3 separate regions of the Homo sapiens genome follow, and all the other regions are reported to be linked to region 1. The links are microRNA targets in miRTarBase. Many come from high-throughput screens and were not tested one by one. Region 1 holds a microRNA gene; each other region holds the end of a gene's coding sequence.
The links. The annotated mature microRNA hsa-miR-124-3p reads UAAGGCACGCGGUGAAUGCCAA and lies in region 1 at 2,915-2,936, shown strand. An mRNA with a match to its seed (bases 2 to 7 or 8) in the 3' UTR can be bound and repressed. Matches are read on the target gene's strand: a 7mer-m8 pairs with bases 2 to 8, a 7mer-A1 pairs with bases 2 to 7 and ends in A, and an 8mer does both.

Region 2: miRTarBase lists CALU as a target of hsa-miR-124-3p. Seed matches in the 3' UTR shown: 7mer-m8 at 5,770-5,776.
Region 3: miRTarBase lists TMEM156 as a target of hsa-miR-124-3p. The part of its 3' UTR that is shown has no 7-base or 8-base seed match.

Annotation. Positions count from the first base shown.
Region 1 is chr8:64,376,296-64,383,492 of GRCh38, forward strand. It overlaps MIR124-2 (microRNA 124-2), which reads left to right and starts at 2,854; the gene lies at 2,854-2,962. MIR124-2HG (MIR124-2 host gene) reads left to right here. Exons shown (of 3, transcript NR_109792.1): 2 at 1,764-2,194; 3 at 5,308-7,197. RefSeq lists an enhancer at 271-848.
Region 2 is chr7:128,768,723-128,775,919 of GRCh38, reverse strand. CALU (calumenin) reads right to left here. Exons shown (of 7, transcript NM_001219.5): 7 at 2,520-6,857. The coding sequence ends at 6,753. OPN1SW (opsin 1, short wave sensitive) reads left to right here and starts at 126. Exons shown (of 5, transcript NM_001385125.1): 1 at 126-481; 2 at 766-934; 3 at 1,257-1,422; 4 at 2,032-2,271; 5 at 3,261-3,435. The coding sequence starts at 139. The coding sequence ends at 3,380. RefSeq lists cis regulatory regions at 1-129, 1-129, 1-129, 1-129, 1-132 and 1 more.
Region 3 is chr4:38,965,289-38,972,485 of GRCh38, forward strand. It overlaps TMEM156 (transmembrane protein 156), which reads right to left. Exons shown (of 7, transcript NM_024943.3): 6 at 5,744-5,849; 7 at 1,456-2,353. The coding sequence ends at 5,782. Among named protein-coding and RNA genes, the nearest start is that of TMEM156, 64 kb to the right of the region's middle.

The DNA.
Region 1 (7,197 bases):
GAAGAATTAAAATAGTTCATAATTAAAATTAAGTTAAAATTACATCATTTAAAAGGACCTTGGAGTTTATAAATAAATTAATTTTTGATCTTTATTCATCAGATTTGGCTATAAAATGAAACTGCAGTTCTTTGAATGTGCAGGTTGCTGGAATTAGATGCTACATATATTTTGAACACACATACTTATTTTAATATTTTAGTTTTAGACAACGTATTCAAAGTACTTGAGAAGAATATGCAATGACATTTTTTCCGTGTCCTAATCAGGACCATGGTGAGGTCCCCGTGGTTCACCGAGTGGTGGTCCAGGGCTCTGGTTGGGACGCTGAGTTAGGTTGGCAAAGCGTCATTGTTTTGAAAGGCACATTCGTCCGGAATGGCATTCGTGATAAGATTAAACATAAACCTAAACCTTGGCCTCGGGGGAAGGCAGGCTGCGGGGTTGAGAAGAGGAGATGCAGATTAGCTCTGCTTTTGCTGCTTGCGCACATAATTAAGAGGCGGTCCCTCAGCTGGAGCGTGGGCTGTGTCCGGCCTAAGGTGCTTATTTTCCTGTTACTTGGCCAACCGAGTGTGAGTGAACAGGAGCCCGAGAGCTTAAATGTGGGATCTAGATAAGGTGTCGACTGGGTTGTGGGCGTTTGTCTCCATGTTAGGGAGAGGCAACTGAGAACGGTGACTTTGGCTTGTTTTGAGAGAGCCTGGGTTTTGACAGCAGGACGGCGAAGGGAGCGCTTGGAGAGGCTGGAAGCTCGACGTCTTAGGGAGCTGCCTGCGGGCACTGGGTTGACGCCAAGAGGTTGTCGGCAAGGGCAGGGCTCTTGCCCTCTGCTGTACCTAGGCTCTGCAACTGGGGGCTGCGAGCCTTCTGCGGCTCTTTGGTTTCAAGGACACAGCGAGCTGCTCAGGACTTTGGGAGCCAACATCTGTCTGACTGGTGACGTCAGCAGCCCGTGTAATCCTCTTGTGCTGAAGGCAGATGCCTTATTTGTTTGGCTGGAGCGAGCCATTAATCCCTAATTCTGGATCAGCAAGCGAGGGGGAAAGACCGGACCGCTCCGACCCACCCCCTCCCTACCCCCACCTCCCACCTTAAAGCACCTTATACCACGGAAGGCTCTCAGCCTCTTCTTTCCTCTGCGAACGCGCTGAGCAGCGATTGAAAACGTTTTGGTCCTCTGCAGGTTTGAACAGGGCTAGCAGGTCTCTCTCCGGATTTCTAGGGCTATGGGTATATGTAATTCTTTCTCTCATCGATCGTTTCGATTCTCTTGCCGGTCTTGCAGTTTGCAGGGTCCTAAACGAAGAGGGGTGGAGATTCGAGAGTGCGGGTCTGGCGTGTGGTCCAAGGGAGGGGGTGAGGCTGGGAAAGGGGGTGCAGAATGCGGGAACGGCTGGGACTGCACAGAAGGACCATCTGCGGACTCGTTTTCACTGCTCCAGCTCCCGAAATCGTTTCTCTGGACGCGGCAGTATCCGCAGCGCATGCACCCTCCTCTGGACTTCCGCAGCCCAGACCTGCGCTTACAGTCATCGCGCCACCCCCTCCCCCCGGGCTGCGGGCCCCGCGCTCCGTGGGCTCAGGGTCCCCTCCGCGTCCCCCTGAAGCCTGGGGACGGAGGTCGCGACCGGCCGACTGGGGTCCTGTCCTCTTGTCACCTTGTATCCCTCGCATGCTCCCTCCCGCCTCGTGTCCCTCTCCCCACCCTCCCCCTCCTCTCTCCCGCCTCCCTAACACTGCGCTTTGATTCTGTTTTTCAGGGGCGCATTCTGGGGTCTCTGCGCAAGACCAGCTCTCAGCTCTCTCTCCTTTCCTCGGACTCTGGAGCGGGAGCGGGCCTTTCCCTCGGGTCGACCACGCCGTAGGGGACGCCGTGAAAAGAGCCGTCGCGCCCGCTGCCTCCTGCCCGCTGCGCAGAGGGCTCCGCCCGTAGAGGTCAACTTCCCTCACCCTTTTCTCTCTCCTGCTTGCCCTCCCTCCGCCCGGCCCAGGCGCTTCCAGCCCCAGACTGTGGCCACTGGCTGAGGAGTGCGAGTCGGCTGCGCTGCCCTGAGCCTAATCCCTCTTCCGGGCCCAGACCCGAGGTCCGCGCTCCTGGGCAGTGGGGAAGCTTTAGTGAGCAGGCTTTTCTCTCCGCAGCAAACTTGTAGCCAGACCAGATGGGCCGCCCAGCTCTCTCGGGACTAGGCAGGTGCGGATGAGTTAATTTTTCCGCATTACAAAGAAAGATGACCCAGCCCGCCCTTGGACTCTCTTTTCCCAAAATCTCCCAACCAAACCCGCGGTAACGTTATCAAAGGACACAGAGCCCAGGCATATCTGTGTGTTTATCTTACAGGCACACACGCATGGTTTTCTCTTTTATATGCTAGATTTCATCCCTGACAGCAGAAAATGATTGGCAATGGTTATGACGGAGAACATGCAATAGCGTGGTCCTTAAAAACCTGCCATTCCTTACAAGTGCCTTAGAAAGGATTCAGGGCGAACCAACTGGGTTAATTGCATTCAGTAAAATAACACGATTACAAAATTAGATCTGTACCAGAGGGGTAATTAACTTGGATCCACGCCGTCATTTGAAAACTAGATTTATAGGCTTATGTATGTTTTTAGGCGTGTGCTGTAAATGGCATGGAGATATATGCATATGTATACGCAGGCACACGCACCGTCTACACTTCCACGGAACAGACTAATTAACAGCGGCTCTGGCAGATGTGTCAGAGATGAGCAGAGACAGGAGCTGGGCTTATGAGTTATGACTCTAGGGGTAGAGACTCAGAGCGGAGAGAGGGGGATGGGCAGGGAGAGAAGAGTGGTAATCGCAGTGGGTCTTATACTTTCCGGATCAAGATTAGAGGCTCTGCTCTCCGTGTTCACAGCGGACCTTGATTTAATGTCATACAATTAAGGCACGCGGTGAATGCCAAGAGCGGAGCCTACGGCTGCACTTGAAGGACACCAAAGCATCTCAGGGTCAGAAAGGGGAAAAAGCAATTGCAGGGAATTTAGGGGGTAGTAAAAGGAACCCATCTCTTGCCGCATAAATGCCCCCCACCCCCACCCAGGACTGATTCTGGAAGCAACCTAGTGTTCGAAAGGGAAAGGCTCCTACTTTTCCATTACAGCCGCGGAAATCCGCAGGCAAATCTCCGAGGAGAATTTTAGGGAAGCTTCATTGACAGCTGTCTGGAGAGCAGTAGTTCCCGCCTGTGCAAATATTCCAGAGAGTTAAATCATTTAGAAAGCACTAGTTCTTTCAAGAACAGGTAGTGTGATTGTCTGCAGTCCTGGGCCAAGCTGGGAAAACAAAACAGCAGAGAGAGGTGTAACATTAAATAGCGTCCTGACCACACTGCGCAAGAAACAGCAAATGAAACGTCCAAACTTTGGAAAGATCTGAAGAACACTTGCCGCCCGCATTTCCCCTTGACTTCTCCCTTTTTCTTCCCAATCTCGAGGCGTTCATGCCTGGCTTTAAGACGCCAAGATAACTCTCTTGTTTTGGCATTGTCGCAATGTCCAAATCGGTCAAAGGAGTGGGATAAGGTGAAAGGACCAGGTCAGAAACTTTAGAAGGACTCGGTAAATTAATTTGTTTGGAAGCCAGTGAGGTGGACTATGTTGAGGTAGCAGTTCCGCACCACGACTTTGGAGCCAAAGAAAAACCCAGGCCGAAAAAGCGAGCCTTGATGTCTTTGTTCTGCCTTGGCCTGCAGGGGTTGGGAACAAAGGAGAGGAGCTAAGAGGATGCACCAAAGTAGCCGCGCCCTCCCTGCCTGGCGCTGTCCGCGGTGCTGACCGTGGCCCTTTTCTCTCTCCGTAATCAAACTGGAAAAGCAATAGGACCGTCCCGTCCCTACTCAAAAGAAGAGTAGGATATTAGGTAATTTGAAAAATAACATTTAAAAAGAGAAAAAGGTCACATACAGCAAAACAATATTTTACTGAAATCGTTCCCTCAAGCTGGTTGCTACCCTTGCCTGACACTTTTTGGTCTTCACGTAGGAATGCACACATACATACATTGTAAGTGTATGGGGAAACCATTTCCACTTTATTTAGGCTGAAACCTAAATCGCAGGATTGCAAGAAGGAAATTGAGGAGAATGAAGGCTTTATTATTATCCTTTTCTTTCTTAAATCATCTTCCTTAAAACAGAAACATAAGGTCCTCAGCCGCGGATTTTAGTGCTTACTTGGTCACCAAAGGGACGTGCAATGGACTCAAGTGTGGGCCTCGAGGCTTAACTAGGAAGGGGTGGGTCGGGGACCCACCAGGTGAAACAGGGCAGGAGCCCATGCAGCTTGCCACCTTCGGCCAGGCCTTGCAGCCCGGCAGCCTTAGTAGACGGGTACAGAGGGCTGAGCTCTGCAGACCGCTCTGCTGCGCAGGAGCCTGCTCGGCGCATCCCAGCCGGCGGGAGGCACTGGAGGGCCAGGAGGCCTGAAACCCGCACTGCGGAAAAACCGACCTCAGCCACATCCTCATAGCTCACGCGACGGAAAGAGGCAGGGCGGTTTACTAAATCTTATGCAGTGAAAATTCGCCTTAGAAATCGAAGGTTGGATGAGTCAGTATTGATATATTCAAAAATCTAAATTTCTTAGCATATTTCATCGTTCTTAGATGTTGAAAGTATTAAATGTAAACAATACAAATTTAAATTCCCTAAGTAATGAATCAAAATGGCAAGGGAGAGAGAGAGAGAGAGAGACGGAAAATCAACCAATTCGTAGCCACCCTGGCTGGCTATTTCTCAAAAGAAATTTCTATGCATTTGCTTGAGTTTGTCTATAAATTCACAAACATAAAGGGTGTTAAAATTAGTAACAGACAAAATAATTCAGGTTGGACAATAGAGACAGCAACACCGATTTTGATCCAGGTATAACAATGGGCCATGCATTGACAATGACCTAAAAGACATGTGTTCATTAAGTTATTTTTTTTACACGGGATGTAGATGTATCATAAAATTCATGAAATAAAGCGGCCAGGTGCAATATCCTCAGAGAGCTGCCTTCTCACCCCCTGCCTCAGGGCGGATTTTATCTGTCCTCGAATTTTAGAACTCTGCAAGTCGGGTCTTTCACATTCATCGATTACTTTGGTTTATATTTAATTTTATCCAATTTCGGAGTGGGTGGGTAAAGCACACTGGAAAATAGGGGCTGCTCGAATTACAAAATTTAAGGATTGGGAATATTCCTCTTGTGCCAATTAAAAGCAGTCGTTGGAAGCAGAAATGAATTTAAAGCATTACACGTTATCATGGCGGCCTTGCTTTTTCCTTCCAGTATTCATCCAATTGCGCTGATCTCCTGCATCCACATCTTGCGTAATCCACAAAGCAGCTATGGTCCAGGGCTGCAAAATCGTCCTGCCTGATTCCTTTAGAATTCATACTACCTCAGAGGAGCAAACCTAATCCCCTCAGCCTAATCCTACCTGTTTAGGATCATCTAAACTTGTCCTTCAGAAAGCTTGATCAGTTTAAAATTGCTTTCTAAATAGAAATGAAATACGTGATATGAGAGAGGTTAAAATACTGCTTAAAAAGGGAAACACTCAATTTAGTAATTCGGTTGCCTAGATGAAATCGAGTGGCTATTGATCCGTGATGTTTCTAGATTTTTAAGACTATGTACTTCCTATTTCTTTGGAAAATAATCATCCAGTTTGATGCCCATTACAAATTTTCCTGCTATGAAAGAAATTCTATGCGCGGCAGTTTTGCAATAAAACAACCCGGGCTTCGCAATGGGAGAACTTCGGTGCGGCGTGCCGTGAGAGTCCTTTGACAATCTCAGCTTTCATCTAGGTCTGAAATTAAAGCTTCTCGGAATAATTTAGGAACAGCTTGACCCGTTGAGATACTCAAGGACAACCCTCCAGGGAAATAGTATGTTTCCTTCCTGGGAACAAGATGCTAGCGCGGTGCACCGGGAGGTATCTGGTGTCAACAATGCCAGAGCGCCCTCTGCTGCCTCAAAGAGGCAGGACACCAGTTACAAAAGCCAGATGGCACAGTGGCAATAAGCGGAGGAAACATTAAGCTCTTAGAAACGTTTAATCTGTGAAATTTAAAAGCTCTCATCATATTCTACTTTTGAAAGGGCCACCTGATTTTGATTTTGAGCACTCCTTGGATGTTATCTTCTATTCTGGAGGATAATGAAAAGTCCGTGTTTTGAAGTTTTCAGATTATTTCTGTAGTTATATTTCTCCACTCTTTCTCGAATTTTATATGGAAATACGAAATTGCAAATCTAAGTGAAAAACCTTTGTGTAAAACAGGTGAGTGGAGAAGACGTCCTGGTTTCTCCAAATAACTAAGATCTAATAAAGAAACAAATCTTAATTAAAATAAAGATACCGAGCACATGTTGTTGTGTTAGTTTAAAACGATAATAAAAAGAAAGAAATTAAGTCTCGATGTAAATCATTGTTTTGTTGTTTTGTTTCAGTGATTAACCCAAATTTTGACCAGACTTGAAGTTTTGAAATAAGAAAGTGAATTATTTTAAAGAAGAAGAAAAATTTGCTTCTTATTAATATGTACAATATTTTTGCCCTTAAAACCTTTGCAATACATTTATACACACACACTCAGCTTGCAAAGCCTTCTTTAGAAAATAACCCACTCTGAGTAGAAGTAATGAGATATGGTAGCAGCATGGGCAAAGCCATAAGAAACGTTATTTGCATTAAAAATGAGTTTTTCAGTATGGAAAATCAATTACCAAATGAAATAGAGATTTTTTTTAAAGGTTCAAACCTTTTCAAATTTTTATGTTATAGGGTTTATATTGATTAAAATAAATGTACGTTTGTAGTTATTCAACATTATGAATTTCAAGATGGCCACCTATTTTGAAACGCACACCTTTGCCATGAAGTCTGTTGTTGCATATATTAGTGCTGATGTAATAAAATGCTTCTATTAACTATGTGGTTGTTAATAAATCTTGTAAAAATAAAGTTCTGTTTATTTTATGGTGTCAGAACAAAATAGCTGTTTAAAATCACTTATTTTAGTCTTAGCTTTTAAATCAAAATGCCTATAAGAATATTAAGTTCTAAGATTGTTGAGAATACTAAGATAAAATTAAAAATTGTATGATTTTACAATTTGCTATAATTTAAAAATCTTGTATTGATTAAATGTTAAATCAGGTTAAATATTT
Region 2 (7,197 bases), not on the chromosome of region 1:
CAAACTTTGTCCTTGGGAGGTTTAGGATTAGTATTGATCATTCACAGAGCCCAAGTGTTTTTAGAGGAGGGGTTTTGTGGGGTGGGAGGATCACCTATAAGAGGACTCAGAGGGGGGTGTGGGGCATCCATGAGAAAAATGTCGGAGGAAGAGTTTTATCTGTTCAAAAATATCTCTTCAGTGGGGCCGTGGGATGGGCCTCAGTACCACATTGCCCCTGTCTGGGCCTTCTACCTCCAGGCAGCTTTCATGGGCACTGTCTTCCTTATAGGGTTCCCACTCAATGCCATGGTGCTGGTGGCCACACTGCGCTACAAAAAGTTGCGGCAGCCCCTCAACTACATTCTGGTCAACGTGTCCTTCGGAGGCTTCCTCCTCTGCATCTTCTCTGTCTTCCCTGTCTTCGTCGCCAGCTGTAACGGATACTTCGTCTTCGGTCGCCATGTTTGTGCTTTGGAGGGCTTCCTGGGCACTGTAGCAGGTACTGCAGGGGAAAAAGGGGTTAGGGGAAGGCAAAGGTTGCTACTCCACTGGAGGGGGTTCCTAAAGAGGAGTCTGGGGGAAATGAGTCTGGTGCTTTTTAAAATACTGGGGTACAAAGCAACCCAGACTAGAAGTTTGGCTAAAATAGGATGTTTGAGTCTTCACTCCAAATGTCAGTCCAGCCCTGTCTCTCTGTGCTTGCTCCACCCGATCTGTTTGCCACTCTGCCAGCCAGGCTGGGTGGGGCTCTGTCTAGCCCATTATCCTCACATTTCACCACAGGTCTGGTTACAGGATGGTCACTGGCCTTCCTGGCCTTTGAGCGCTACATTGTCATCTGTAAGCCCTTCGGCAACTTCCGCTTCAGCTCCAAGCATGCACTGACGGTGGTCCTGGCTACCTGGACCATTGGTATTGGCGTCTCCATCCCACCCTTCTTTGGCTGGAGCCGGTGAGAGTGCAGGGCAGTGGTGCTGAGTTAACTAGGAGCTCAGGTTGATGTGGGTGGAAAGAGAGCTTGGGTATAACTATTTAGTCTTTGACCTCTACTTTTAAAGAGTTGCAATATGAGGCGAAAGGGCAGTGGGAGACAAGTGCTAACGTTTACTCTGCAGTTGGAATTGCTGTAGCTTCTCCCAGTCAGGACAGAAAACCCCCCTGCTTGAAGCCTTAGGGCATTCCGTGGGTTCTAAGTGGAGAACACAATCCAGGCATCTCAGCTCCCACTGCACTCTTGTGGAGAGTCCAGTGAGCAAGTGTTTGGTCCTTTGCAGGTTCATCCCTGAGGGCCTGCAGTGTTCCTGTGGCCCTGACTGGTACACCGTGGGCACCAAATACCGCAGCGAGTCCTATACGTGGTTCCTCTTCATCTTCTGCTTCATTGTGCCTCTCTCCCTCATCTGCTTCTCCTACACTCAGCTGCTGAGGGCCCTGAAAGCTGTGAGTGGCATTTGATAGTCAGGGAAGAAGGGGTTCGGGGCTCCACATGAGAAGGAAGAGTGCTCTGAAACATAAGATGCCTGGAAATGTCCATAGCCAGAGAGGGTATCTAAAAGCAGCAAAGGAAGTAGGAGGAGGGAGAATGATGGAGATCCAAAGGAACTAGGCCAGGAGATGGGACAGAAAAGAGGCAATCAGAGTGGATGCCCCCTCCCCCATCCCACAGAAAAGCATCCAGAGACCGGGCGCAGTGGCTCACGCCTATAATCCCAGCACTTTGGGAGGCCGAAGCAGACGGATCACCTGAGGTCAATAGTTCCAGACCAGCCTGGCCTACATGGCAAAATGCTAAAATGCGAAAATTAGCTGGGCATGGTGGTGTGTGCTTGTAACCCCAGCTACTCAGGAGGCTGAGACAAAAGAATCACTTGAACCCGGGAGGTGGAGGTTCAGTGAGCCGAGACTGCACCACTGCAACTCCAGCCTGGGCAACAGAGCGAGACTCGGTCTCAAAAAGAAAATTAAAAATTAAAAATTAAAAAAAAAAAAAAAAAGCATCCAGAGGGCCAGGAAAAAGAGAGATGTGATGCTTTCCGTGCTCCACCCCAGGTTGCAGCTCAGCAGCAGGAGTCAGCTACGACCCAGAAGGCTGAACGGGAGGTGAGCCGCATGGTGGTTGTGATGGTAGGATCCTTCTGTGTCTGCTACGTGCCCTACGCGGCCTTCGCCATGTACATGGTCAACAACCGTAACCATGGGCTGGACTTACGGCTTGTCACCATTCCTTCATTCTTCTCCAAGAGTGCTTGCATCTACAATCCCATCATCTACTGCTTCATGAATAAGCAGGTAAAGCTCTTTATTCACATTCCTATGGTCCAGAAGACCCTGGTTCTTTTCTCACCATTGACTTTTAACTCAGAGCACCCTGGACTCTACCCAGGTTTCTAGTAGACGAGGGAAGCCACAAAACCCCCGAGTAGGTTGGGAAGCCTTTGGTAAGCACAGGGAGGAAGGCACGGTTATCAAGACGAGAAAATAGAACCCCGGAGGAAAGAACTTGAGTCAGGAAAATGAAGTTGCTCCAAAGAACAGGATGAATGAAAGCATTTTATTGAAAAACTCGTGCAGCAAACCACCATGGCACACGTTTACCTATGTAACAAACCTGCACATCCTGCACATGTATCCTGGAACTTAAATAAAATTAAAAAAATAAAAATAAAAACTCAGATTCCTCTCAATTTTCAGTCCTTGCATTTAATAATTTCTTAATCATTTCCCTTCCAACTTTTAGCCTGCACGAGCATGTGTGAAGCACAGAAATCATACCACATGCAAAAATCTCTAAAATATCTTATCATCTGAAGGTACTGGGGGATTTCCTATCCCATCTGAAATCCGAGCTAATAAACACCAAACCCTAAGTGGCAAAAACCCTACTTTCAGATGGTATTGTTTCCTCAATCCCAGAGGTAGACTCAAAACTAATTTGAAACCTCCCTGGATAGAAGAGAATTGGCAGTCCTTTCCAGCTGGGAGCACCTGCTAGTAATGGAGGGGCCTCTGCTGACAGTGCTTTTATGAAGCAGGATGGTTTGTGAATTTACCAACAGTGAGGTCTCAGACTTGACCAGTTTAGGATTACCGTAGACCCAGGAGTAGTTCTAGACTGGAATCTAGATAGTTTTCAGGATGGGGAAGATAGATTCAAAACCACCTAAGGGCATTCTGGGTACAAAGCATTGTGCAAGGCTTTGGTGATACAGAGAATAAGGTCTTTTTTCCCATACTTCCTCATCTGCCAAGGTTATCTCCAATTGTACCTTTCTCTCCAGTTCCAAGCTTGCATCATGAAGATGGTGTGTGGGAAGGCCATGACAGATGAATCCGACACATGCAGCTCCCAGAAAACAGAAGTTTCTACTGTCTCGTCTACCCAAGTTGGCCCCAACTGAGGACCCAATATTGGCCTGTTTGCAACAGCTAGAATTAAATTTTACTTTTAAGTAAGTTTCTATTGTCTCCGTCAGAAACCAAACTACTAAAAACACAAAAAAGATGGTAAAAGGAGTGATGGCAGTTTGGGGAGTCAATTTTTCATTTTCTTACTATTGCCTTCTTGCCTACAAAGCTACTGTTTCCACTGGTCTATTTCAGACCACCCAAAGGCCATTTCAACAATCATCAGTTTCTACTCCTAAGTGGCACCATTCACAGCACTTGGAGAACTGATTTCTACATACAAGGCAACCAAAAAGGAATATGCTTTAAGTTTTCAGTGTATGGATACTTTCCTTTTTAGTAACTTTTTTTTTTTTTCCTGCTGGGGATCCATTCTGAGATGATATATGCTGAATTAGAACAAACTTAAGAAAACACTTTAGAAATGGGAGAGACATAAAGAAAAAACAAAACAAAACAAAAAAAAAAACAAAAAAAACTCAGTGGCCCCAAATATGAGTTTGAAAGAACTTTTGGATAACTGCTACAGCTTTGGCAGGAACAGCCATGTCCACAAGCCCCTGAGCAAGCACAAATTATTCCAGGTGCTTCCTCCCCGTTGCATTTGGCTAAACCTTTATATTTGTCTTAAACTGTGTGTTTACTAAAGTTAATAGTTTAATTCTCTCGAGGTTCTCAAAATGAATTTGCATGTTTTAATAACATTTGTAAACAATACCAAAATGTTAAACAAAATTGTTTTACCTTATGCTCTATAGATAAACGTGTGTGTACATTCAGAATCGCTTGTGTTTGGTATCAGATAATTATATAACGAGCAGCAGGTCTCTCCAGTTATACGGCCTAATGGAAGTAAAAAAGGGTTATGGCTGTGGTGAGAAGGATGCTAGAAAATACCAGAAAACAGGGAGAAAAGAATAATCATTTAGGAGAAGGCAGTGCTGTCTCTGAGTTTGGGAGAACTTCGAGGAGAGTTCCCATTCTGACATTTTAGAGCATCCATAATTCTAAGCTAGAGTTCTATTTCTTGGAAAATGAAGGTCATACATACCCCATAATGAATGTAAACAGTTTTATTTAGAAACAGATAGGTACCTGTTCGCATTGCAGAATATAAAACTTGGTTTACACTCTATAAAAAATAACCAATATCCAAATTCAAGAGAGCTAGCATTCACAGAACACACAATATGGGTGTGTAGCTACTGTTCACCAGCCTCAGGCTTGATTTAAACAAACAAACAAAAAAAAAATTTCAAAGGGATCATTCAAGATGACCGTATAATGCTTGCTGCTGTCTTTGCAGATTAAGGTTTGCTTTTCAAGTGCATGATTTTAACATAAGGCCTGGGCTCTCTGCACCTAGTGAGGTGTGAGGCTCTCTTGCCACACAGTTCACACTCTCACTTAACTAAGCCAGAGTTGGTGGCATTATTAAATTATCACTGGTCTTCTTAATAGTAAAAATGGGGAACCCAGAGGGCAGGAAATTTCCATTACCCTATATTGGGGCTAAACTTAAAAGAGTATATCCACTATCAAGAGCTTAGTACAAAGGCTGGGGTGAAGTTACATTATACCTGGCTTTTTACCATACCAGGGAGCCCACCTCAACATGACTGTGGAAGACCAAAGGATATACCTAGGTTCAGATTATAATAAATCACCCAGCACCACCTGAATGTATTATCCACAAAGATATAGCAATAATAAAGGTTATATATACATATATTTATCTTGGTAACCTGAGGGCTAAAAACGTGGAATACGATAATTCTTCTCAAGAGGTCCATCTGTAAGAAAGGGACCCAAAAGGACAGTGTTTGTGTTGCATAAAATATGGGTAAAGTGGAGTTGGGAACAAAGGGTGGTTTCTTTAGCTCTTTCCACATCTCTCTTTGATAAGGACTGAAACCCTGTTGATTCATGATAAACGTTTCCTTTTTTTTTTTTTTTGGCAGCGGGGAGAGGGAAAGAGGAGGAAATGGGGTGTGATGGGTCAAAGGCAGGAAAGGTAAGCCATGGTCCTCAAACCAAAGAGCCCTCTCTGTAGGTCCTCTGATCTTTGAGTGTGAGCTCAAGCTCTCCAGTGGACACAGAAAAAGGCCTGGTAGTAAGTGGTTTGCATTGTGAGGTATGAGGATCCCTGGTAAATTCAGCAGCATGTGGTTTTTGGAAATCAGCCCACAAGATAAGAACACTGCAACCAAACTCATAACTAATACTGCTAATTTAACTATTGTCCAAAAGAGAAAGGGAAGAAGAAAAAAATCCCCACTCTACTGGGAGGTTCTAGGCTTTCCTATAAGTTATCCAAATAGTCTTTTTTTAATCTCAGGGTTTCTTAAGAGAATTCCCATTCAGTGACCATTTCTTTCGTTAAAGGCACTTTCAATGACATGATTGGAAAGGAGTGAATTTTAATTGTAGTGAAACCAAGATTAATTCCTTGGCACACCTGGGAAGAAGAGGAACCGGATGGGGGCATTTACAGTGATTTCAAAAGGCAAATAATTAAGTCTTGAGCATTTCAACAGATGCACACCCAGAAAAAAAATGTATGCCCCGAAAACACTTGTATTTTTCCTTTAGTTTTCCAGCTGTTTCTATCTATAGCTCTGCAAAGAGATCACATTCACTACTTGATTGATTTTCAAGACACTGGCCCTAACTCTTCCCACCACAGCTGTGCTTGACAAAATTAGCCAACAGTCAGTCCTACAGGGGGAAAAAGAAGAAAATCAATTTGGGCCAAGCTTTCCTAGAGCAAAGGGATCTTTCCTTGCCCAGGTAATGGCAGGTTCAGTTGCTGGACCTATAGCAACTGAATGTAATATGTGGCCCCTACTACCTATGAAATGTTGGACTTTTTGACAGGCAAGACTAAGTGTTCTCTCTCTAAATATAAATTGTGGAGCATATATTTTTTTTCTTTCCTCTCTCCTGAACATTTCTTATTGATCTCAGGCTTACAAAATTAGTTAAGTGAGAATTATTAAAATCATAAAAGGGGTTGAGAAAGAGTAAAGAGCTAATGTTTGTCTACATGTGTGAGTTGAGGATCTTGATCCTTCATATCATACTCCCAACCAGAGAAAAATACAAAAATAAACACGCCATGTTAATACATAATACAAAGTGTAAATCTACAAACACAAGTGTACTAATTAGAGTTGTTCCTCAGAAGCACGGCTTCCCTCCAGTCCCTCAGAGAGGAGGAGGAATGGGGACGGGATGGTTTTCATTACGCCTTTTCATGTCTTAAAAAGTTTGTAGTAACAGTCTCAGTAGCGCAAACAATTTCATGTGAAACCAGAAGCTGTAAAAATAAATTACTTTTGAGGAAATGAGGGTTCCTCCGTAGCTCAGAACTCATCATGCCGTACTAAGGCCTCCCCAAAATCTGTGGCCTGGCTGCCAACAAATAAGTCATACTTGTCAACGATCTCCTCCTTGGTAAGCTTGCCATCCTGAAAGTAGAGATAGCAATGAATTGAAGAAGAACATATTTCCCATTAAAAATTCAGAAACACTGTTATAGAAGAATTGGGGTTAATCAGAAGTTAAGATTCTCATTTCTACTAAATTAAGTGTGAACTACTCAGCCCTCATTCCCCCTACATACATACGAAGAGGGAAGAAAACAGCAATTACACATTCCTTGTTTTTTTTTTTTTTTTTTTTTGAGACGGAGTTTCGCTCTTGTTGCCCAGGCTGGAGTGCAATGGCGCGATCTCAGCTCACCGCAACCTCCGCCTCCCGTGTTAAAGTGATTTAAGTGATTTTTCTGCCTCAGCCTCCCGAGTAGCT
Region 3 (7,197 bases), not on the chromosome of region 1:
GCTCAAAAGCCTGCCCTAATTCCTCCCAACTGGAAGTGATCCTATTGGCTTGTAAATTCTCAGCAGGAAGCATGCATCCTGCAATTGACACTTAGCTTACCGTATTGTGTCCAGTATTTTCACCAGTGGTGTACACATCCTGTCTCCTCTGCCAGAGTGTAAATTCTCTGTAGGCAGAGTAGGCCATCTACATCTTTGCGTGCGTCACAGTATCTGTTAAAAGTCGATTATTTTAATGAATCGGCGAAATTAGCTTCCTGAAAGCTGCCACAATTTAACTGGACTCGAAGCTTTATGTTTGCTTTTTGCAAGCCAAGTTCTCATTGATTTCTAAGTCATTGGTCAGAACATAAGAGGTGGTGTGTAGGGAAACAATAATTTGGCTTCTGAGAAATTGCATAATATCCATACCTCACAGGGTGTAATGCCCCTTCACTACCGCTGAAAAATCCCAGACCTGAGTTTGACTCACCTATTATTTAGGGATACACAGACCAGAAAAAGTGAGACTACTGTAATTCCGTTTGCGAAATCTTCAATCTCTAAATTTTACAATTAGAATCTCAATTTGTGATCTAGAGAAAAAATAATCGAATACCAGAAAAAAAAACCTCTGTGTGCTGGAATATTCATGCCTGTTAGATTGCTTATGTAGGAAGGGAAAAATATCTTTTCCTCCTACCCTTTTAAATTCAGAGCTGAATCCTTTATAATAAAAGATTAACCAGAGAAAAACATAGTGGTTTATTTAAACAAGTTCTACGTAACACAAGGGCCATCCTCAGGAAGTGAAGATCAGAGGAAACAGTTACACTTGAGTGTTTTTAGTAGTAGGTTTGATGAAGAATGGAGAGACACTTGCAGAAATATGATCAGGCAAAAAGAGTACTAGATCTAATAGGAATAAATGGAGGGAAACTTAGCAGAGCCCGTTTGTTCAGATTCTCCTCTGGGTCCCTGTGTCTTGGGAGATAGGGAACTGCCTTTCCTCTGTGGATACAGGAAGAGCACCTCTCACATGAGGGTCCTATGATGTGTTTTAGAGGAAGGTCAGCAAAGGTTTTATTACCTGCTTCCGGGGAGAAAGGTGGCAAAGGAAGGTCAGAGTAATATTTCCACTTAAAATTTGCCATTTTCTCAAATCCTTCAGCTTAAAAAATTCAGTTTGCCAAGGTGCCATATTTTGGGGCAGCGTGTCCTCAACCCCATCACTGATTATTAAATCTGACCCTGCAGTTAATCCTGTAAATCAACTCAGATAAGCAACTGTAGCCATATAATGATGGCCAGGAGATTAAGTTCCACCTTAACTCTGGAAAAGCATGTTTATATTTTAATGTCAAGAGCTGCCCTCTTGTCTATATGTGCTTTTTTATTGTTATTAGTAACTATAATTATGCTTGACATTAACAATGGCTATAACAAATATGAAAGCCAAAAGAATCAAAGGAAACGTTTTGCTATTAAAGTACTTAAGTATTTTATTTAAATTCGTTTTATTGGTATCTTTGATTTTTTTTTTTTTTTTTTTTTGAGACAGAGTCTTGCTCTGCACCAGGCTGTAATGCAGTGGCGTGATCTTGGTTCACTGCAAACTCTGCCTGCCAGGTTCAAGTGATTCTCCTGCCTCAGCCTCCTGAGGAGCTGGGACTACAGGCGCGCACCACCACACCCAGCTAATTTTTGTGTTTTTAGTAGAGACAGGGTTTCACCATGTTGGCCAGGATGGTCTCGATCCCTTGACCTCATGATCCTCCCACCTCAGAATCCCAAAGTGCTGGGATTACAGGCATGAGCCACTGCGCCTGGCCTCTTTGAATTTTTTTAAAAACATCCTGGTGCTAAAAGGCAGCAAGATTCATAAATGCAAACAAACATATAAATAAACAACCAGGCCCTCTTCCCTTTTAAATAATCTGTGAAATAAAAATAATCTATCTGCATAGGAAACAATTATCAAATCAGCATCTACAATGTGGCCCAATAAAAGAAAGGGTTTTCATATTTGATCCTGTTTTTGGTTCCTCAAAATTAAAAACTTGGCTCCACTCTGTGCTGTATAATGATAGATTTTTTTTAAGAAGAGAGAGAGTGGGAATTCTCTTGCTGTTTCCATGGGTTTCATCATCTTTTTTTCCATGACTCATAATGGCTTCTTGCAAACACTCTTGTTCCCTTGATCTCATGGAGCGAATGAATGCTCTTAAGCTAGTTTTCATCAACCAGTCAGCATTCCTCCTGCTTTCCAACTGTGCATCCTCAGCTGGACACAAACATTTTCCAGTCTACTCATTCACAAAATAAACTTCTGAGTATTCTTCAAAGGGCTCGGTCCAACTTGCCCGGGGATATTCTGAAGATTTAAATAAAAGCAAGAAAATATTATTCACACAAAAATTTTGTTAAGTGTTACTTGAATTAGAATGGGCAGAAAACAATTTTAAAACCGTTTGTTAAAACTATGGCTTATAAGACCACCAAAAAATGTTCTCAAGTCTCTGATTCAGGGCTCTTTCAGGGCAACCTGACCGCCTCAGCCTCCCAAAGTACTGGGATTACAGGCGTGAGCCACCACACCCTTCCATGACTTCTTTTCCTTTGGGTAGATACCCAGTAGTGGGATTGCTAAATGGAACAGTAGTTCTATTTTTAGTTTTTTGAGAAATCTCCATACTGTTTTCTGTAGTGGCTATACTAGTTTACATTCCTACCAGCAGTGTATAAGAGTTCCCAAAGTTGGGACAGTTATTCTCCCTTTTCAGGGTGACCCCAGGACTGATTCTGTGTTACGCCATGACACCCCCCATTATATCCCTAAGAAGACATTGTGCTCAGTGATAACAAACTTCTCAGCCTAGGACCAAGGAAACCTAGAGTCTCCACTAACCTCTGCTGCTACAGCATGTTTGGTTTATTTTCTATATCTATCAAATGAAAGTGTAAGTGTTCATGCCAGTTTCTTTCAATTATAACATTCCATGATTCTAACACAGAGACATAGAAATTGGGATTTATTCATTTACTCAACAAATCCTTATTGAACATCTAAACGCTAGGCATCATGTCCTCTGAAGGAGGAGTCTCTCTATCGTGCTCCCCAAGTCCCTCTCTTCACATGTGAACACCTTTATCATGTTACTTGAGTCTTTATTGGAATTAGGGCTTCTCTAATCTGACTCCTCCATTGACTACATTGTTGTTTTTGCCAATGAGTAGGATTCTCAACATACAGTAGGTGGTCAAAAATCATTTGGTGAATGAACAAAGAAAGAGGAACTCTTCAGATGCAAAGATAAGCATCCCAGAATGAACAACCAGAATGAGAGGTCTCGAGCATAATAATATCCAGTAATATTTCATTGACACAATCATATGACTACACTATATGCTACTTAGGAATTTCTGAGCCAACAGCAGACCCTGGTTGCACTGAGACCCAAAGTACTAAGACCTGCCTCTCTTTAACCTTGAACACAGACAGATTCTTGGCACTAAGTTTCAATTTGGCGTATTGAGCCATCGACGCTGGATCCCTTTGGCTGCCTCTCCCAATCTGCCCTCCACTCGTTTCCACCCTACTTGGTGCCCTGGGAGGCCAACTTACATAACTGCCTCCGCTGGGCTCCAGTGCCCTCTGGCTCTGGCTGGGTTTGGTCAATGGGGGAGTACTAGCACATTAGAGGAAGAGATGATGGCAAAGTTGGGGTTTGTTTGTACAAATTTATGGGGTACCTGTTAACTTTTGTTCTATGTATATAATGCATAGTGATTAGTGATCAAGTCAGAATACTTAGGATATCTGTCGCCCAAGTACAATACATTTTTGTGTAATTATAGTCACGCTACTGTGCTTTCACACATTCAATGTATTCCTTCTATCTGACTGTACATTTGTACCCTTTAACCCATTTCCCTTCACTTTAATCCATTTCCCTTCATCCTCTCCCCACAACTTACCTTTCCCAGTCTCTGTTCTCTATCTTTCCACTCTACTTCCATGTGATCAACTTTTTTAGCTCTCACCTACAAGTGGAGAACATGTGATATTTGCCTTTTTGTCCGTGGCTTACTTCACTTGAGATAATGACCTCCAGTCCCATCCAAGTTGCTGCATATGGCACGATTTCATTTTTTATGGCAAATATTTCATTGTATATATGCACCACATTTGTTTATCCATTCACCTGTTGATGGGCACTTAGGTCCATTCCATATCTTTGCTATTGTGAATAGTGCTACAATAAACATGTGAGTATAGGTATCCCTTTGCTATAGTGATTTATTTTCTTTTTCCGTTTCTTTCTTTTTTTGTTTTTTAAGACATGGTCTCATTTTGTCTCCCAAGCTAGAGCGCAGTGGCATGGCATGAACACAGCTCACTGCAGCCTCAACTTCCCAGGCTCAAGTGATCTTCCTGCCTCAGCCTCCCCAGTAGCTGGGATTTCAGACACGTGTCACCACGCCTGGCTAATTTTTGTATTTTTTGTAGAGACAGGGTTTCACCATGTTGCTCAGGCTGGTCTCGAACCCCTGAGCTCCAGCAACCTGCCCACCTCAGCCTCCCAAAGTGCTGGGATTACAGATGTGAGCCACCACACCCTGAGGTGATTTATTTTCCTTTGGGTAGATACCCAGTAGCGGGATTGCTGAATGGAAGAGTAGTTCTATTTTAAGTTTTTTGAGAAATATCCTACTGTTTTCTGTAGTGGCTATACTCTTCCTACCAACAGTGTAAAAGAGTTCCCAAAGTTAGGATAGTTATTCTCTCTTTTCAGGGTGACCCCAGGCTATAGTGTCCCTTGACCAAATGTCACAGCTCCTGTAGGACAGCCCTCCTCACACACTGTGTGTGTGTGTTTGTGTGTGTGTGTGTGTGTGTATACATGCATGCATGTCTGTCTCTGTCTCTGTCTCTCTGGGTTTCTTTCCCCTTTAGTCTTAAAGACAGTAGCAGGGCCCCACTCTTCCTAGTCTCAGGGTGCTGCATTCTCCCTTTTAGTTTTCCCACACCCTAGTTTAATATGCCCTTCATTAAACTAATCTCAAATTATTCAATTTGAGTGCAATATCAATTTCCTGATAGGACCTTGACTGAAAAACCACCCACGTATTCTGAAGAGTAAATGATATAACCAATTACCACAAAGCACAATAAGTGGGATGCTTATAAATGCTAGTTTCCCTCCCCTTCCCTGTTATAATTTTTATACCCCCTACAATGGCTATTCCTAGTGCCTTTAACATAATTGCTACTTAAGAAAGATTTGATGAATGAATAAAAAAAAATTTCAACACTTTTGACCATACTTTTAGACTTAAATTCATGGAAATCAATATGCATTAATTTAGATTATCAGATGTTACATTTAGAGAAGTTTTTATTTCAATAATTGTGGAGGAGGCAGTTTGCTTTACACATCTCATTCTCTATTTTCTCATAGTCTAACTAAGTTATGGCTCAACTCCGGAAAAACAGGGCCAAGGGATAAGCTATCATCTCAGGAGCAGTTTAAAAGACTAACAGATTAGTTTAACAGACTAAGAGATCCATCTACTGATCCTTCCTAGATCTTAGAGAAAATAGTCATTTTATTTCATGTCATCTAATTCATATGAACTGACTTTGCAAATTCATCATTTTCTACCTCCTACCAGATAGAAATGGAGTTTGGGATCAACTGTGCATCCTTGAATTTATCTGTGTTTATAATGAAGAAGTCGATAAAGCCGAATCATCACTCACCGTGTATATTGATCTCACTGATGCACTGTGGAAGTAACTTATAGTTCTGGAATTGGGGGAAGCACTTCCTGGACTTGATCCAAAGGCAGCCTCTGCGTGGTCTCTGCTATTTAAGAAGGAGAACTGTTTTAGTCTATATGTAGTAAATAGCAAAAAGAGACAGGCTTATTCTAATGTAGTAAGAGTAGCAAGAGAAGCATGCTCTACCTCTAGAAAGGATTTTGGGACTTTCTACCCTCACTAATTTTCCTGCCTACCTCTCTAACACCTTTCACCCATTTCTCTCAACTCCTCACCCCACGTCCTGGGCACAAATACCTGAAGCATAGTTAAGGAAGACAACGTAGAGAACAAATTTAAAGTCCAGTGTCAAGTAGCAAGCAAAGAATCTTAGTTTGGAAACTGACTGCAAACATTTTATTCTATCACATTTTGTTGAAATATGTCCCTAAGGAGAATATTAATGATGTCTTTGATCTCAGGGACAATTTTACCAAGAAGCAAAGTCACAAATTAGATGAATTCTAATCTGTCTTCCTGCTCATGACTGTATGACTTTTTAAAATTCTTCTAATATTATCCTCAGCTGACTTCGAGGTGGAAGATGAAACTTTATTTCCTACATCATGACATCTCGTTCATTCTCCTAAGATCCACGGTCTTGTTTTTCTAGCTTTTATATTGAGAATTGAGTTTTTGTTTCATAGACATCTCTACTTTTGATACAAAGCCCTGAACACAGGTGAAATTGAGGTGACCTATAATTTTTTTTTTTAAGACAGAGTTTCGCTCTTGTTGCCCAGCCTAGAGTGCAATGGTGCCATCTTGGCTCACCACAACCTCTGCCTCCCGGGTTCAAGTGATTCTCCTGCCTCAGCCTCCCGAGTAGCTGGGATTACAGGCATGCACCACCATGCCCGGCTAATTTTGTATTTTTACTAGAGACGGGGTTTCTCCATGTTGATCAGGCTGGTCTGGAACTCCCAACCTCAGGTGATCCACCCACCTCAGCCTCCCAAAGTGCTGGGATTACAGGTGTGAGTGACCGCGCCCAGCCGAGGTGACCTACAATTTAAAGAGAAGTTTGGGTGGTTGCTACTTAAGAAGAGAAATCAGAAAGGGAGATTTAGTGTATTCAAGAAAATTATGCTTCTTGTCCATGAAGATGATCAAACACTGGTACAGAAATACTGTAGAACCTTCTCTGGGAATTTTTTTTTTTTTTTTTTTTTTTTTTTTTGAGACAGAGTCTCACTCTGTCGCCCAGGCTAGAGTGCAATGGTGCGATCTCAGCTCACTGCAACCTCCGCCTCCTGGGTTCAAGCAATTCTGTCTCAGCCTCCTGAGTAGCTGGGATCACAGATGTGTGCCACCACACCTGGCTAAGTTCTGTATTTTTAGTAGAGACGGGGTTTCACCATGTTGGCCAGGCTGGTCTTAAACTCCTGACCTCA